Linked DNA regions of Homo sapiens. The protein of the gene in region 1 purifies or fractionates together with the protein of each later gene. This does not show direct contact. Each region holds a gene or a part of one and is shown in the gene's direction. Other genes may lie near its edges. The genes, in order: APMAP and INTU.

Region 1 (3,822 bases):
TGAGCACCCCACAGTGAACATCTTGCAATAAGCCCCTGTGGTGAGCACCCCACAGTGAACACCCTGCAATAACACCCTGCAATAAGCACCTGCAGTGAGCACTCCACTTGAACACCCTGCAGTAAGCACCTGCAGTGAGTACCTCACAGTGAACACCCTGCAATAAGCACCTGCAGTGAGCACCCCACAGTGAACACCTTGCAATAAGCACCTGCAATGAGCACCCCACAGTGAACACCCTGCAATAACCACCTGCAGTGAGCACCCCACAGTGAACACCCTACAATAAGCACCTGCAGTGAGCACTCTACACAAACACCCTGCAGTAAGCACCTGTAGTGAGCACCCCACAGTGAACACCCTGCAGTAAGCACCTGCAGTGAGCACCCTGCAATAAGCACCTGCAGTGAGTACCCCACAGTGAACACCCTGCAATAAGCACCTGCAGTGAGCACCTCACAGTGAACACCCTGCAATAAGCAACTGTAGTGAGCACCCTGCAATAAGCACCTGCAGTGAACACCCCACAGTGAACACCCTGCAGTAAGCACCTACAGTAAGCACCCTGCAGTGAGCACCCCACAATGAACACCTTGCAATAAGCACCTGCAGTGAGCACCTGCAGGGCAGTTGTAGCTCTAATGCCATGGTCTTGTCTTGTTCTGTACAGCATGATGTATGGGAAGGGATGGATGAGATGCTTGGATACTGAGAACAGCACATGTAGAATCCGGGACCAGCTACCAATCCCCATCTGTTTGTTTTTCTAGAAACCCGAGATGATGAGCCTGTGTGTGGGAGACCCCTGGGTATCCGTGCAGGGCCCAATGGGACTCTCTTTGTGGCCGATGCATACAAGGGACTATTTGAAGTAAATCCCTGGAAACGTATGTGACAATATCTCGTTTCCTTCTATGAAGATTTTAGATCTTTTAAACAATATATGTATGTGTAGACTTAATAGGATTTGTTAGCAACAGTCTACTAAAGACTCTGATATTTCTTATTCACTGAACAGTACTGAAAACATTGCCTGCAAAAGTCAGCTAGTTTTAAACACCAGAAAACTCCCTACCCATGATTCCATTTGGTCCGTATCCTAATTTCCTCCTAGTATTTATATTTTAGCCACAGGGTCTCAAAAGGACTTATTTTGAGGAAGTTAGACCTCTTTCTGTCTTGATTTTTCTGTGTGTCTCTCTGCGTCTTGTCTATTTGTTTTCTCTCTTTCTTCTCTGTGGCCCTCCCCTTTGTCTCTTCCTTTCTGTTTTCTCCTGTAGTTCCTCCTCTTCTCTCCCCTGATTGCTCATGAGTCCCCTTGATCAGGCTGTAATACGTGCTGTGTGTCTCAGTGGAGGTTCCTGCTGGGGAGGAGTCCGTTGTCTTGTGCGTGGGGGCCCGAACATAGGCCCTGCAGCCCAGCTGCTTGGGGGCATTCCACTCTGCTGGCCACCAGCTGTGACTGCAGGTCCCTTAGTTGCTCTCTGCCCAGCTTCCTCATCAAATTGGGGTCATAGTAGCCCTGCCTGTGGGATTGTTGCGAGGGTTTAAAGGCGATCACACCTCGAGAGTGCTTAGCACTCAATCCATGTTCTTTCTATTATTTTTCAAAACTTACTACTACTTTTCTTTTCTAAAAGGAGATGAGTAGAATGTCATATTTCTCTCAAATAGAACTAACAAATAGAACTGAAGCCTGCCTAACACTTGCAGTAGATGTTATCAAGTCAGTTGGCCTTAGTAAAAGAAGGAATTCCTCATCCTTATAGAAAAGATTCTGCCTTTAATGAAATTAGTCTAAAAAAATCATTTAACACCTAATACTGTTTTTACTATAAGAAGGAATAAATCTTCTGACAAATGACATGGAGAAGTTTCAGTTTTTCTTTTTAAATCAGTTAGGTTGGTTAATATTTTGCAATTATTGAGAAGTTCCTAGTTCAAGTCAATCTTTTTCTTTCTTTTTAAACTTCAGGTGAAGTGAAACTGCTGCTGTCCTCCGAGACACCCATTGAGGGGAAGAACATGTCCTTTGTGAATGATCTTACAGTCACTCAGGATGGGAGGAAGATTTATTTCACCGATTCTAGCAGCAAATGGCAAAGACGAGACTACCTGCTTCTGGTGATGGAGGGCACAGATGACGGGCGGTGAGGCCTTGCTCCAGGTCTCCCATTTGTTGAGTTCACCAGCCAGGCCAGTTGCTTCAGCAGAGCCTGTTACTTCTAGGGACCAAGGGAGTATTTCCAGCATCATATTTCAGCTTCTAGGACAGGACCTTAGTGGCTTCTGGAGGCAGGTGATGGATGTCACAAAATGGAACAAGGTGCTTTCGTTTTCTCTGAGGAAATAAAACAGGCCAGTCCGTCTGAGGGTGCAAGTCTAGGCAGTCGAGAGAGACCCCGGAGGCAGGCCTGGGCTTTGGGTTGCCTCTCTGAGGGGTATTCCTGTCCAGCTCCCAGGTGAGCAAGATAACTGACCTTGGGGTTCCCTGGAGGGGACACTGGATCTGCTGTGGATGGGGAAGGGCCCCCAGGGGCCAGCCTCGAATCAAGTTTGAGCAGGGCACCCAGGGCCTGTTGCTCCGGGGTGAGGCGGAGTCACCTTCTTCAGGCCCATACCCTGAAGGCCCAGAGTGGGAGCCAGGGATTCTCCCCCATAACCCTCTGCTTTTGGTGTTCCACAGCCTGCTGGAGTATGATACTGTGACCAGGGAAGTAAAAGTTTTATTGGACCAGCTGCGGTTCCCGAATGGAGTCCAGCTGTCTCCTGCAGAAGACTTTGTCCTGGTGGCAGAAACAACCATGGCCAGGATACGAAGGTGTGTGTGGGATTAGCTGAGCCATCAGTTACTGGCCAGAGCGCATCATGGCCGGGGTGGGGTGGGCATGGAAATGGGATCGACAGAAATCAGAGGCAGCAGCGCACCTTCTGCATGGCATGTTAAAGAAAATTCAAGGGTGCGCTTTCTTTCTCCCATTGCGAGTCGCAGTCCGGAAGAGTGTCTTAAGGCTGACTGGTGCAGCCCGGGCCCCATTCCCCTGCTGGCAGGGCCTTGGTCCTCCCCTGACCTACTTCCCCTCTGTTCATACTGGGCCCTGTGCACAAAGGTTTCTTCTCAGCAGCTGAGCCTTTGTTCATGATGGTCATAGAGCACTTTCCATATATATATTTGGACCAAGACCAGTTTGGTGCTTGGCTAAAATTTTTTTTCTGAAATTGAGGGGCTATGGTTCACTCTCTGCTTGGGTGAATTTTTCAGAGTCTACGTTTCTGGCCTGATGAAGGGCGGGGCTGATCTGTTTGTGGAGAACATGCCTGGATTTCCAGACAACATCCGGCCCAGCAGCTCTGGGGGGTACTGGGTGGGCATGTCGACCATCCGCCCTAACCCTGGGTTTTCCATGCTGGATTTCTTATCTGAGAGACCCTGGATTAAAAGGATGATTTTTAAGGTAACTGTGAAAACTGTTATTCCAAGAAAGAAAATGGAAATGAATTGAATCATATTTTTTTGACCCTTATAGCTTAAAAATCTAGTTCTGCTTGTAGTATTTGGCTCTGAATGACACTTAGAAACACATTTCATTCTTCATCCTGAAATGCAGATTTAAACATTTGGACCCTTTGGTTCTTATGGTTTTCCTTTTTCTGGGTGTTTTTATTGTCACCCTCACCATCGTGGCTTTGGGCATCTGCCTGCCTGTCAGTCTCTGGTTCCCTGTTTCTGGGTGTTTTGATTGCCACCCTCACCATCGTGGCTCTGGGCATCTGCGTGCCTGTCAGTCTTGCTCCTCCATCTGCCATGGCTTTGCCAGGCCT
Region 2 (3,822 bases), on another chromosome or scaffold:
AAATTTTTTTCTGGGACTTTAAAAATAGCTTCATTGAAGGATAATTTATATACAAAAAACTGCACATATTTTTAATGTACAATTTGATGTTTTAACATGTATACGTCTGTCAAGAAAATGAACATATCCATCTCGCCTAAGAGTCTCCCCATGTACCTACTTAAGTCCATTTATGCCTCTCCTGATAACCATTTATCTGCTTTTTGTCACTCTATAGGAGTTTGTAGTTTCTAAAGTTTCATAAAGATGGAATTGTGCAGTATGAATGTTCTTTTTTGTCTGCCTTCTTTTATTCAGCATAATTACTTTGAGATTCATCCATGTTGTTGCCCCCATTAATAGTTCATCTCTCGGCTAGGTATGGTGGCTCATACCTGTAATCCTGCTTTTGGGAGCCAACGCAGGAGCATTGCTTGACACCAGGAGTCAGAAACCAGCCTCGGAAACATAGTGAGACCCCCATCTCTAAAATAAAAAATAAAAAAATTAGCCAGGCATGATGGTATGTGCCTATAGTCCTGCAACTTGGGAGGCTGAGGCGGGAGGATCACTTAAGCTCAGGGTTTCAAGGTTGCAGTGAGCTGTGATCACACCATTGCACCCCAGTCTGGGTGACAGCAAAATTTTGTCTGAAGAAAAAAAAAGTTCTTTTTTTTGGTACAGTGAAGCCCTATCACCATTGTACACTAAAGACCTATTCTGAGCTGGGCTCACACCTGTAATCCCAGCACTTTGGAAGGCCGAGGCGGGCAGATCACCTGAGGTCACGAGTTCGAGACCAGCCTGGCCAATATGGTGAAACCCCATCTCTACTAAAGATACAAAAAATTAGCCGGGCATGGTGGTGTCCACCTGTAATTCCAGCTACTCGGGAGGCTGAGCCAAGAGAATCACTTGAACACAGAAGGCGGAGGTTGCAGTGAGCCGAGATCGCACCATTGCATTGCAGCCTGGGTGACAAAGTGAGACACACCATCTCAAAAAAAAAAAAAAAAAAATCTGTACAGCAAAGCCCTAACACAAAATATTTTGCTGGTCTGTGATTTTTGTTCTGCCAGAGTTACATCATATCCCCAACTCAATGATGTGTAGAAATGCTGACTTTCCTCTCTTTCTTGAATTTTTAACATGGGAACATACTAGTTGTGAAGAATCAAAATATTTCATTTAGACTCATGATGCCATACTGTTAACATCCAATTTAGGATAATATTTCCTACTTTTTCTTCTGCTCTGAACCCTGACTCCTTTTTACTTTTAATTTAATACAGATTAAAAAGGCACATGGTATATAACTAGGTTTATGATGAAAAATGGTATTACCCTGCTGTCATCTCTACTTCCAGCTCAGTGTGTGAAGATAATTCATTGTCTTCCATTTCTCCTCTAAGGCTACCCATCTCATTTACTGACATCATTATCTCCTTACTCTTGTCTTCAGATCTGATGTCTCCAGTACTATTGACTTCCTTCTCTGGTTTTCTCTTCTCCATTCTCACAGGCACTGCCTTACTTAAAAGGTTGCCTCTTGCCTCTTGCCTGTTTCCCATGCACCAGTGGAGTTGCCTCCTAACTAATCTGCATGCTTCTGATTTCTCCTGTCTGTGGTCTTTCTTCCATACCACTGCCAGTTTGCTTTCTAAAACACAGTTCTAAATCATTTTTCTACTCTACTCAAAAGTTTGGTGGCCTTCCAAATAAATTCTAGGTTCCTTAGGATGATTTTTAAATTTTAGATCTGTCCCAAGTCTTTCTTGTCTCATTTCTATTGATCTCCCTGTTCATTATTGAAAATGATTATCCACTTATTCTCAAATTGACCACTTGCTTTCACACCTACACCTTTATGTACTTTGTTGTCTCTGTTTGAAATACCCTTTCTTCCTATCTCTACTTGTCAAAATCATTCAAGGTCCCACTTAAGTTCTACCTTCTCCTAGAATCTTTTCTGGTCTCTCTTAGACTATCTCTCCATCCTGTACTCTAGTCCTATAGCAGTCTTTATTCCTGAGTGTTGGCACTTGCATTTCAGCCATTTGATTCTCTGTCCCATCTGACATCTTTAAAAGTACAGTAAAGTCCTATCAGAAAATGTTTTGTTGATGTATGACTTTTGTCCTGCCAGGGTTAGATTGTATCACTAATTTAGTGATGCATAGGAATGCCCTGTTTAGCTGAGGGGGCAGGTGGTAGGAAATGTGACCCGGGGAATGAAGTCACTATTAGATGTGTTCCTGATGTAGAAATGTATTACCTGCAGTGAATGAACAGTTATGCATTTATTGACTGATCCCTTTGCCTTCTTTGACATGCTTAACAGTTATTCTAATGTTGCTTAGCAAGAAGAGCTTCAGCTCATCTGAGACTCCCTACCCCTAAGCTGCTATATCATCCAGCATACATGTTAATGATTGAAATTCATGGTGTTCCTTTAGTAAATGATCAGAAGACCATCAAGAGTGAAAATCAGATATTGTTGGTAGACAGAACACAGAAAAGAAAACACAGAAAAGCATAGGCAGGCAAGTGCTTACTGAATAAGTGCCGGATAGAATCCATATTAATTTGTCACAGTGTTTTTATTGTGTGTGGTTTTTCTCTGTTCCTAGAATTGTCCTGTTATACCTATTAGCACCACATAACTATATGTGTTGACCACTTCGGTAAAGTGCATTGTGCTTTGCCCACTAAGAAAAAAAGAAAAAAGTATACTATAACAGATTTGGAATAGTAGCAAGTGTTTATTTTCCTTAACTAAGGAAATGTGCCAGTGGGGCTGGCTGTTTTATAACTCCTTTCTTGTGGTAGTTAAGGAAATTGCTGTACTATTGCAAATGATGAAAAATGCTGGCATTAATGCAAATAAAGACCTGAGAGATTCAAATAACTATTAGAGGGGTATTAAAAGATGTAGTGTTGACCTAGATATTTTTGAATACGTCAGGAATGAGACAATTATTAGCATTATCTGAAGTTCATTTTCTTTAATATATTTATGTTACAGCTTATGCAAGTGAACTTGCTTATTTGCAAATTAACAAGTCTTTCTTTGGGAAGAAGGGCTCTACTCCTGTTTACCACATCATTTAGGGCCTTGAATACCAATTAAAATGCCCTAAAACGTTGCTGGCAGGCTATAAACATACACTTATTCTGCTTAAAGCAAAGCAGAATAAACAAAATAAGACTCATTGAAAGAAAATTGAAAAACATTTACACAATAATTATGCAGCTTGTACTATAAGGTCTTAGAAAATTTTGAAGGCGTATTTATATTAGTGCTGAAATATGACCCATGTACTACAAAGATCTGAATTAAAACTGCTAGATTTAATTCCTTCCATTAATTTTCTTTTTATTTTTGAGTAAGTTTAGATTTACACAAGAGTTCCAAAGATAGTACAGACTTCCCATAAATCCTTCACCCACTTTCCCCTGATGTTAACATCTTACACAACTATTATGCATTTGTCAAAACAAGACATGAATATTGGTCATTTCTGTTAACTAAACTCCAAACTTTATTTGGCTTTCACCACTCTTCCATTAATGTTCTTTTTCTATTCCAGGATTCAATCCAGAATATTGTATTGTCTGCTTAGTCTCCTCTGGTCTGTAACAATATCTTAGTCCTTTCCTGTTTTTCATTACCTTGATCACTTGGTTATGTAAGGTAGTGTCTGCCAGGTCTCTTCCCTGGAAAGTTACTATCTTTCTCTTTCCATACTCTGTTCTCTGGAAGAGTATAGTCACTAAGTCTATACTCAAGGGGAGGAGGGATTAAACTTCATCTCCTGGAGTGGGGATTATCTATATGTATTG

Evidence for each region.
Region 2: the proteins of APMAP (region 1) and INTU purify together in Homo sapiens (affinity purification with mass spectrometry; one large-scale study listed by BioGRID and IntAct). This does not show direct contact.

The regions. Positions count from the first base shown.
Region 1 is NC_000020.11:24,968,525-24,972,346, reverse strand, and holds part of APMAP (adipocyte plasma membrane-associated protein), read left to right. Parts: intron 1-770; coding exon 771-887; intron 888-1,975; coding exon 1,976-2,150; intron 2,151-2,686; coding exon 2,687-2,821; intron 2,822-3,262; coding exon 3,263-3,455; intron 3,456-3,822. UniProt on the Homo sapiens protein: Exhibits strong arylesterase activity with beta-naphthyl acetate and phenyl acetate. May play a role in adipocyte differentiation.
Region 2 is NC_000004.12:127,635,635-127,639,456, forward strand, and holds part of INTU (protein inturned), read left to right. Parts: intron 1-3,822. UniProt on the Homo sapiens protein: Plays a key role in ciliogenesis and embryonic development.